Regions from separate parts of the Homo sapiens genome. Here region 2 is linked to region 1. Evidence: fine-mapped expression QTL. A gene starts in region 1. The other region holds a variant in brackets. All regions are shown on one strand. Distances are from middle to middle.

Region 1 (5,384 bases):
ACCAAAACTTGTTACAGACAAGCACAAAAATCAGTAACAATGGACCAATTTTATTAATTATAAATACATTTTAATCCTAAATAAAAGATTAACAAATCAAACCCAGCATGGCTTTCATTTGATCAAAAAATAATAGAACATGACAAAGCAGAGTTTATTTCAGAAATGTAAGAATGTGTTGAACACTAGGAAATCAATGAGCATAATTCATTATATAAAAGAGTCAGAGTAAAAAACAAATATAGTGATAGAGGCTAAGAGACAGTTGGTAAAATTTTGCACTCTTTCCTGATTTAACAGCATGTAGTAAAACAGGATAGAAGAAAATTTCTTTAAAGATGATAGTGTATTTTCAGAACACCAACTAGCAGGCGCAGTGGCTCACGTCTGTAATCCCAGCACTTTGGGAGGCTGAGGCGGGTGGATCACCTGAGGTCAGGAGTTCGAGACCAACCTGGCCAACATGGTGAAACTCCATCTCTTCTAAAAATACAAAATTAGCCAGGCATGATGGCATGTGCCTGTAGTCCCAGCTACCCGGGAGGCTGAGGCAGGAGAATTGCTGGAACCCAGGAGGCAGAGGTGGCAGTAAGTCCAGATTGTGCCACTGTATTCCAGCCTGGGCGACACAGCGAGACTCCAGCTCAAAAAAAAAAAAAAAGAATACCAACTAGCACTAGCACCAAATGGGCACATGCTTGCCTTACTGCATTAAAGCTGGATATCCATTATCTTGTCCTGTAGTCTTAAACATTTTTCTGATGTTTTGACCAATGCAATAGGAAGAAAGAAACGCATTATTTGCAGGTGATAATGATTGTCTGTGTACAAATTCATAGAGATGAGCTGTCAAGCTATTAGAACTAACAAGACATTTTTTCATAGTGTGGTAGGATACAAGGTAAATAAACAAAAGTCAATAGCTTTCCTAAATTACAGCAATAAGAAATATCTCACTTACAAAAAAACTATAAAATATCTAGGAACAAACTTCCCAAGGATTATGCAAACCTATGTGATTTTTTTTTTTTTTTTACAGATGCTGATGCAGATCTGAAAAAAAATTGTTAATGCATCTAAAGATACAGAAAACAAGTATTTCTGAATGGAAAGACCCATGATATTGAAAATTTTGAAAAAGAAGAGAATTAGGAGAGGTTCCTTTATGAAAAGGCAAATATATTAAATATGTAATGATTATAACTGTGGCATATTTTAGGAATAAGCAGATAATTAATAGAGGAGAATGTTCAGAAACAGATATATACGTGTATGTATACCTATGTATATGTATATGCAAATTTAGGTTGTAATTAACAGTGGCACTTCAAAGTAGTGAGGAAAGAATATTCACTAAATGACATGGGGGCAACTGGTCAACCATTTGGCAAAAATAATCTCTTAGTAAACTATTTTATTTCCAGGAATTAATTCCAAGAAGTAAATGGACAAATGTGAAGAAATGCCTGTTGAAGGATTTTTTTGGGATAGTGAAAAATAGAAAACCACTCAAACGTCTATTCAGTAGATTATTTCAAATGTGTGTGTCTATTTGTGTGTACGTAGTATACGCATAAGTTATGGAATGCCATGAGTCTACTTTAAAATATGGCCGGGTGCAAGATGGCTCACACCTGTAATCCCAGCACTTTGGGAGGCCAAGGCAGGTGGATCACCTGGGGTCAGGAGTTCGAGACTGGCCTGGCCAACATGGCGAAAACCTGTCTCTACTAAAAATACAAAAATTCGCGGGACGTGGTGGCGCACATCTGTAATCCCAGCTACTCAGGAGCCTGAGGCACGGGAATCGCTTGAACTCGGGAGGCGGAGGTTGCAGTGAGCCAAAATGGCGCCACTGCGCTCCAGCCTGGGCGACAGAGCGAGGTTCTGCCTAAATAAATAAATAAAATGATGAAACAGATTTAAACTTAATGGAATGGAAGGATAGCCACATAATCTTTAAAGTGAAAAAAAAATCAGGTTCTAAATCTATAGGTATTCTTTGATTACATTTTTTTCAATGTGTAGAGGCATAGAAAAGTCCAGAAGGATCTATAATGAGCTGTTTAATTTTCATTTCCTATGGGGTAGATCCTTTGTTGCATGGAAGATTATTTCACTCTGTTAGCTCTCTTTACATCAGTAGGAATACATCCTCATGGTTTTAAACATCTTGAGGGAGCTTTCCTGACACTCTACTCTAGGTAAATATGCTCGCATAGCACTCTCTATTCACCATATTACCTATAAATCATATTGCACTTTTTAACTTTTCTAAACTACTTTTTGCTTTCTTTTCTAGATTATAAAATCTTGAGGGCAGGGATAGTATGTAAAGGTTCCCTTGTGAGCAAATAACCGTCACTTATTGAACTCTGTGTGCCAAATACTGTGCTAAATGCTTTCAATAATCTCACTCATAGGGAGATATTACTACCATCTCCATTTTGAGGATGAAGATATTGAAAGATTATGAAGTTTCTCCCAAATGCCATTGCCAGGCCTGTGTGACTCTTGGTCGTTACACGGTGATCAATAAAAATTTGTTTCATAGGAAAGAAATACAGCCAGCCGTGGCTTTAAGATCACTGGGTGATACAGTTGGACCAGAAACCCTTTAAACTCCTTCGTCAGACACAGACTCGCAAGCCCCGCCCAGGACGACCGCCCGCGCGCGTATGGATAAGCGTGCAGGGGCGGGGCGAGCTTGTAGGAGTGGGGCGGAGACAGATCTGACTGGCCAACGTCGGGCGGAAGTCGGGAGGTTGGGTGGTCTGTAAACGCTGGCTTGTGACAGGGAGGGGGAGGAGGAAGGCCTTCGTAAAGGTTGCATCTCCGTCCCTTCGCTCCCGGGGACCCGCGGGAAAAAAAAAAATCCAACACCCAGGCCCCGCGGCTAGCCCCTTCCCACAGGCTCTCTCCGCTCGATTTTGTCACCGTTATGTGGGAAGCGAATCCAGTGAGTAGCCGGGCGGGACGGGGCGGGCCCAGGGGGCGGGGTTGATGAGAGAGGGGCGGGAGGGGGTCACCGGAACTGCTTCCCCGCGCTCGCTTCAGTCTGGGTGTTGAGTTCCGGGACCGGAGTTCCCGGGCCTTTTGGCTTCTGTAGTCTGTACCTTTTTAAGCAGTGGAAGTGCCTGGGTGGATTCTCCAATGCTTTATTGTTTTCTTGTTACAATTATTTATTTTACTTCCCGTGATGTTTCAGCCTCATCCCTTCACCATTTGTTGTTGTTGTTGTTTTTGAGACGGAGTCTCGCACTGTTGTCCAGGCTGGAGTGCAGTGGCGTGATCTCGGCCCACCGCAACCTCCGTCTCCCGGGTTAAAGCGATTGTCGTGCCTCAGCCTCCCGACTGCCTTCACTGTTTTTTGAAACTTTGTGTTTTGCTTTCTAATTGGAGTAACTGGCCTTGGAACCTGTAGTCAGTCATTTGCCTCAGGTTTACCTGCCAGTCCCACCAGTCTAAAGCAAGGGAATTGGGACCCCCTTGTCTTGAATGGGCCTAAGAGGAGCCATCAGTTCTCCTTTTCCCTTCTTGGTGGACAGTCGTTTAAAACTTGGAGTATGGACTGTATGTTCTTAGATGTTTTCGTTCGGTGGACAAAGTGATCTGGAGCATTTCAACTGCAAGTCTGCCTTCTTCCTTGGCTGACTCTGGTATTTTCATTATGACTTCATGTGTCTTTGTCTACTTTGCTTTTATACATTTATTTATTTAAAGTGCAACGTAGGGGCCGAAAACTTTAGTACCTTTCCTCACCACCCATTGTAAGGATCACAGCCACCACTCCTTAAAACAGAAGATAGGTTAACAAGGTAAAAGCAGAGCAAATCTAATCAAAGTTTTACACCACCAGGCACTTCAGAGACCAGGGAGATCTCTATTTTTATGCGTAGGACCCATGAAGAATAGACAACTGTGTAAAAATGTGACTGGACAAAGGATATACTCTAATGTTAATAAACTGAGGAAGGAAGCCCAGCAAGGTCTGTTTGTTCAGATTCTTCTTGGCCTCTCTGTGTATCATTTCTTCCTCCTACGGAGGAGGAAGGTCCCTTCTGGAATGAGGGTCTTAGCGACCTACTATCAGGCAAGGTAGATTAGAGAATTTCTTTATGGCCAGTTCCTATAGACAATGGCAGGGAAAGCTTAATAGTTCCAGTTTTTATGGCTTGCTTTGTAGGAGAGGGATCCTAGTTTCTATCACTCACCTTGGGGAAGAATTCTGGTTTCTGTGACTCACTTCTGGGACGAAAGATGGGCAGGAGACAGAAGGGCAGGAGATCAGAGGGAGAGACTGCTTCCGAGGCTGCTTCTGAGGCCTTCCAATCTCTTTTAGTTCAAAGTATTCAGCATGCCAAAGTGTCATACTTCGGGGTAGTATTTTCTGAGCCCCAACACAACCCTCAGAGAGTGGGATCTATTTGCCAAGAGTATTCTTCTGTTGTTATGGTTGAAACTGCCTGGTAAGGTGGCAGATGTATGGTATTTAAAACTTAGGAGTTGACTGGAAAAATGGTAGAATCACATTTCAGCAAGTTGTTGGACTAAATACAGTCGTGCGCCTCCTAACAATGGGGATATGTTCTGAGAAGTTCATTGCTGGGTGATTTTTTTCATTGTGCCAACGTCATAGAGTGTACTTTCATAAGCCTGCTACACACCTAAGGCTATATGGAATAGCCTATTGCTCTTAACCTAGAAATCTGTACAGCATAGTATTGTACTGAATACTGTAGGCATTCGTAACACAATGGAAAGTATTTATGTATCTAAACATAGAAAAGATACAGTAAAATAAAGTGTTAACAATCTTTGGGACCACTTGTATATGCGATCCATGGTTGACTGAAAGCTTTTATGCAATGCATAATTGTGTATGAAACATAAGAAACTACTCCTATGCTGAGATAACTGCATAAATTTACTTTAATAACCCCTAATTTCCATATTTGCAATAATTTCCTATAATCAGTATTCTTCCCCTCTCATTTCTGGAATATATTTCCAGATAAGTTAGAAAGTTTATCAGTACATTTCCCTATGTTTTTAAGTTAAGTTTTTATCCAGTAGAAACTAGTCTGTTGGTCTGGATTTGGTAGTTGCACATTATGGTTCCTTCTTGTGCATCATATAACAATAGTCATCATCTTAGTATTTTCGATTCATACGTATAATACTCTCTTCAAGCTGCATTAGAGGAAAGTAATTACTTGTATTTGATTTTAGCAAAAATAATTTAGAATAATGAGAATGTGCTCTCTGCTTATATATTCAGTTTCACTATCTGTCATCAACAACCTTCATTTTGTATTTATATCTTTATGTAGCTATTATTCCCTTTTTGTTATCAGTCCTTCTTAATTTTTCCATAACAAACC
Region 2 (5,384 bases), 75 kb after region 1:
TTGGTTAACATAAGCCAATAAATTACTCTTTTTGCCTTTGCTGGCTAGTGTTTCTGACACATTAGTCCTGACTAATGACAACAGGAAGATAATTAACTCTGATTTTGATATATTACATTTGAAAAGACTTCTCTAGATGGCAAGGAGCTCAAGAGAAAAATCATGGCTAGAAATATAGATGTAAAAGCCACCTTTAGATAAGTGGTTGTTAAAGCTATAGAAGTGGCTTCTATAAAGCTATAGAAGTTCACCCAGGATAAGTGTGGAAAGTGTTGAGAGGCCAAGGATGGAACCTTGAAGAATGCTAATATCCAAGAATATGCAGAAGAGGAGGAAGCAGCTGTTTCTAACTCGTACCATTTCTGATGTTAGCCAGCCCTTCCAATCTTACAGCCCTCAGTGGGAAAAAGGTAGTCTATTAGAATTCATTATCGTGTCCCTAGCTTTGGGAGTTTTTTTTTTTTTTTTTAAACTGCTCTAGGCCACATCTGAAATCTGCCTCATATAGCTCTCAGTCATTGGAGTAAATATAAGCTTCCCCAACATATTCCTTCCTGTATTTAAAATCTAAGATCTTATAACCAAATGTCTTCTCTTCTTCAGTATTAAATCCCTCCCTTCTTTCAGCCATCCCTCGTCTGATAAATTGTCAAATTGTATTGATGTCTTTTAAATATCTCTCCATGTTGCTTATGAAGGGTGAAATCTGAAACAGATACTGTATTTGAGCTGTAATGTGACTATCACAGAGTACAGTGGAACTAATGTGTCTTCCTGATATTAACCTCATACTGGTTGCACTATTGAGGAATATTGCACTTGTCACTAACAAAAAAATCACAGATTTTTTTCTAAAAATTTCTAGAAGCCCAGAAAAATAGAATCTATAATTATATGATTGAAGTTTTGAGCCTAAACAAAGGCCTTTACATTTGTCCCTGTTAAATTATTTTTTATACAAAAGGATAATTACTGTAGCCTAACATGTGTGTAAATAATTAGAAGCAACATACCTGGCCAAAAATAAGGTAATATTAAATATAAACACAAGATGGAATATCATGTGTCTGTGAAAATTATCTTTGTGAAGAATATTTAGTGACATGAGAAAGTGCTTAGGGTATAATGTTAAGAAAGTTGCAGGGTTTAAACCATATGTAATAAATTGCAAAAGTCTTTTCACTGGGAAAGGGAGTGTGACTCAGACATAACAGAAGCAATGTCCCTGTTAAATTTTATCTTATTGGTATTAACCCGTTATCCCAGCTTCAAAAAAAATTTTTTATCTTAATTCTATTACCTAATTATTAGTCATTCCTCTCTCCTTTGTGCTGTCCAAAAATTGGTCTACCAAACAGGACATAAAAGTGTTTATACTATTGGGCAAGTATAGAGGTCTGCAGTAAATATCCAGGGATGCACTTGAATTTTGGGTTACAGTAACCATACCTGGATATATTATTTAATCACTAGATTACTCTTTAGCAGGATATTATTAGAAAATACATTCAGACTGAAAGGCTTCTTAAAAGATCATTTCATCCCATCTCCACACCTCTATTCAGATTTGGTATTATATTTTTTTAGGAAGAACATTGTCCTAGTTTGGGCCACTGTAACAGAATACCACAGACTGGGCAGCTTAAATGGAAAGTTATTTCTCACAGACCTGGAGGCTGGGAAGTCCCAAATCAAGGTGCCTGCAGATGTGATTACCTCCCAAAAGTTTCACCTCCAAATACTGTCACATGGGGGATAAGATTTCAACATAGGAATTTGGGGGCATTTAGCCTGTAACAAATGTTATTGCCCAAGATTCCCATCGGTTGCCAAAAGTCAAAAGTCCTGAATTCATTGTGTACCTTGGTATATGATTTTGACCAAGAAACTTAGCCAAGACTCTTGCTTTCCTTATCAGCAAAATGAGATTTGCTGTACATGAAGGTCCCCATGTCAGTCTGGTCTGAGGAGACAAGCTACAACACAAACAAAAATGGGATTTGCTGTATGTGAAGGTCGATTAGAACAAAGGCCTTTTTAATCTTAAAGGTTAAG[T/C]GCATGGAAAGAACCTCTGATGGAAATCAAGGAGTACTGACAGCACGATGTGGAAAATAAGAGAGAAAAGAAAAAAAGGAAGATGGAAATTCTGACAAGGAAATTAAGATGCATGTCCATGGATGTTTTTTGTTTTGATGATAGCAAAAGAGTGATATATTTGCATAACAATGTAAGTATTGTTTGTACTTAACAAAAATCTAGTTTCCTTTCATAGAGTTCTTAAAGGACAGAAAATATTTATCTGTCTGAACACCATTAGACAGGTAAATGATGAATGAGTTACCACTGAATACCTCTTGAAAGCTGATGTCTGTCAAATGTTGAACTTCTGGGAGAGAAGTATAACAAAATACAAGGAAGCTCAATGGTCAATATTTGCAAATAACAAAGTACTCCTTAGATTGGAAGTTACTACCTTAGCAATGGGCAATATTACCCCAACAATATTAAGTACTGTGTGGTTTAATATTACTACAATTTGAGGCATATTATCTAAATGATTTAAGATGTGATTAATTGTTTCCAGATTTTTACCCAGTGCTGTGGTTTGAATGTTTCTGTGCCCTCCAAAATTCACATGTTGGAAACTTCATCATCAATACAACAGTTGGGAGGTAGGACCTTTCGGAAGGTGTTTAGGATTAATACTGCTATAAAAAGCACTCTAGGTAGTGGGTTTGCTCTCTCCTGTTCTTCTACCTTCTGCTATGTGAGGACACAGCAAGAAGGCCCCTACCGGATGCTGGCACCTTGATCTTGGAATTTCCAGCTTCCAGAACTGTGAGAGAACTGTCAGGTTTGTTGTTGTTGTTGTTTGTTTTGTTTTGTTTTTAATAGCAGCACAAAACAGGCTAAGATACTCAGGATTTGTTTTAATCAGGTACGATAAGGTGACAGACACAGAGTTTGAAAGAAGTTTTCTTTCTTATACTTAAGAGAAGGATCCATGCCATGCCCTTGCAGGGCCACATGGGGGAAGTATCAGGGTCAGTCAGGAGGCAGAAGGAGGTGAGAGGGGAAAGCATGGCCCAGAGCATTTATTGTGGTTTTCCAGGGAAGTAATGGATGAGACAAGAAAGGCAAATATGAGGAAGTTTGGGGGTTGGATAGTAGTTCTGGTAATTTCAGCAGGCCCTGGATTATAAAGGTGGTCTCTGGTTGTTTGACACCTGGTCCTGGGGTGATTTAGGTCAGGGGAAATACTGGCTTGCTGTATGAGAGTTAGATAAAGTTGTGGTTGGAGATACGGCCTTTGGATTGTTTGGTGTGCGTATGAAAGACACCCTCAGCAGAGTCCTTTGCTGTCTAGGAATTAGCCGGCCCTGGGAGGGCCAGTCTGTCCCTGGCCAACAGAGCACTACAAAATTTAGAAAATAAAAAGTATGATTAATACATAAATAAGTGTATCTTTTTAAATAACTGACAAAATGAGATAAAATTAGTTAGGACTGAACTAAAATACAGTCTTTATTTCTCACTTTACTCCTCATTTTGCCGCCTGATTCTCCCTAAGAAGATCACTGTCTGGATAGGGCACAAATTTCTCTTGTCCTCTGCAACTGAAGTTTTGGGATGAACGCCTGTGGGTGACGGTAGTGATGTCGTGTTCCCAGGATGCATCATACTCTATTTACTGTCCTTGGGAGAAAATCACTGACTGCCTTGCAGCTGCCTACCCCAACATCTTGTCCATGGCCAAAGGCAACTTCACGGTCCTCTGTGTCACCACATTCCCACAGGAACCCATTTGCTGGGAAAATGAAATACAATGTCTGCATCTTTTGTTTTTTCAGTCAGCCCACAATGGATAATGAATCCAGACCTCAAGGGCAACTTAATGACAGTGTCCAACCCCTGAGAGGGTTATTATGCAGAAGTTGGGGGCCAGCTGCTCTCCATCTTCTTTGAGAACAGACAAGAGGAATTGGATTTAAACCATGGCACAAGATGTGTCAGTTAGACATTAGAAAGAATTGCCTGTCACAGTTTGAGGCATGGAATTGGTGACCAGGGACAGCTATGAAACTGCTTTTCTTGGGGACTTTTAATGAAGGAAAGACTGGCAGATGGATGAGGCAACCTGCCAGGGTAGGTGTGACATAGAAACTACCTTTTTGATCTCCCTCCAGGAGTACATGTGCTTGTCCTTAGAACCACTCTCTCATAAGTCTTAGCACAAGATGGGTTCGTACCTTATCTGCCCTACTAGACTCTAGCAATCTTTAGGCAATGACAATGTCTAGCATGGTGCCTTGCACACAATTGACGTTCAAGAAAGATTTTTTGCATGTGTGAGAATGAATTAAGATGATATTTGTCTTTGAAATACCTCAATTCCTCACCTTCCTCTTTTCCACCCTCTTTTTTATTCAGCACCCTTTCTATCCCAGGTGATCTCCAAAGTCTCTTCCAACTCAGAAATTTTAGTAGTCTGGGTTTACTTATGTTGTTAGTATACCATTTTTACCTTTCTTTAGAAAGATAGGTCTTATGAGTCACACACGAATGTTCCTTAATAACAGAATAATGATTTCTAATTATATACATTATTTCAATTAACACTGAAATAATGGACTGGTGTCCATCAGTGGACTGGGCGTCATCAACCGAAGTTTGCAAATAAGCAGTCTAAAGCTAAGATTGTGACCTGTCGAAGCTTAAATAGCAAAGAAGGATGTAAACTCACATCTGTCTGACCCCAAAGCCCAGCACCTAGACACAGTGGGTTTTCTTACTCAGGAAAATACAAAACTTAAAAAAGATTCTAAGGAGGAGAGCCCAAAGACATTAGTATCCAAAAAGAGAATAGCAAGCCCTGCTACTGGAATGAGTGAGACATAAATTGGGCTGTATGAGGAACTGAAAACCTCAGCTACATGTAAGATCAGCCCTGGCATCCCAGCTGCTTAGTCCTCCCTGCCTCGATCCCAACTACTGCTTAGTGCCTGCAAAACGCAGGCAGTTCCCCAGGTTGTCTGTTAGGGTGGGAGGTTGTCAGGTGCCAGAATCTATAGAGGCACTTAGGGCCCGGATATCTGAGCTTATGTTACTGCTCTGCAACCTGGGGACTCTAGCATTTCATCTACCTGAAGAGTTAATTTTCATCCCTCCCTTTCTGGCCTCTGAACCACTGGAAATAGGATCTCTCTGTCAACAGTGCCTTTGACTGTTTATTTTCCACTTCTCCAGTTGCATTTTGTTCTCAGCTTGGATCATTAACCCACGGTGTGGAAATTTTGATCAGACTTGGATCCTAGAGGACCAACGCTGTGGTGTATTTAGCTGCTATTTCAGTAATAGCAAATACTTAAACCTGTAAGACACTG

The links. PIP is the estimated chance that this variant, and not a neighbour inherited with it, causes the effect. A credible set is the group of variants that fine-mapping cannot tell apart.
Region 2: its variant is the best candidate, but not a certain one, in a credible set for the expression of PARP11 in whole blood (INTERVAL, PIP 0.56).

The regions. Positions count from the first base shown.
Region 1 is chr12:3,870,787-3,876,170 of GRCh38, reverse strand. PARP11 (poly(ADP-ribose) polymerase family member 11) reads left to right here and starts at 2,772. Exons shown (of 8, transcript NM_020367.6): 1 at 2,772-2,959. The coding sequence starts at 2,942. It overlaps PARP11-AS1 (PARP11 antisense RNA 1), which reads right to left. Exons shown (of 2, transcript NR_183432.1): 1 at 4,215-5,384. RefSeq lists enhancers at 1,283-1,802, 1,803-2,323 and a silencer at 2,995-3,104.
Region 2 is chr12:3,795,502-3,800,885 of GRCh38, reverse strand. No RefSeq gene overlaps it. Among named protein-coding and RNA genes, the nearest start is that of CRACR2A, 45 kb to the right of the region's middle. The variant T/C (reference allele first, on the strand shown) is at 2,056.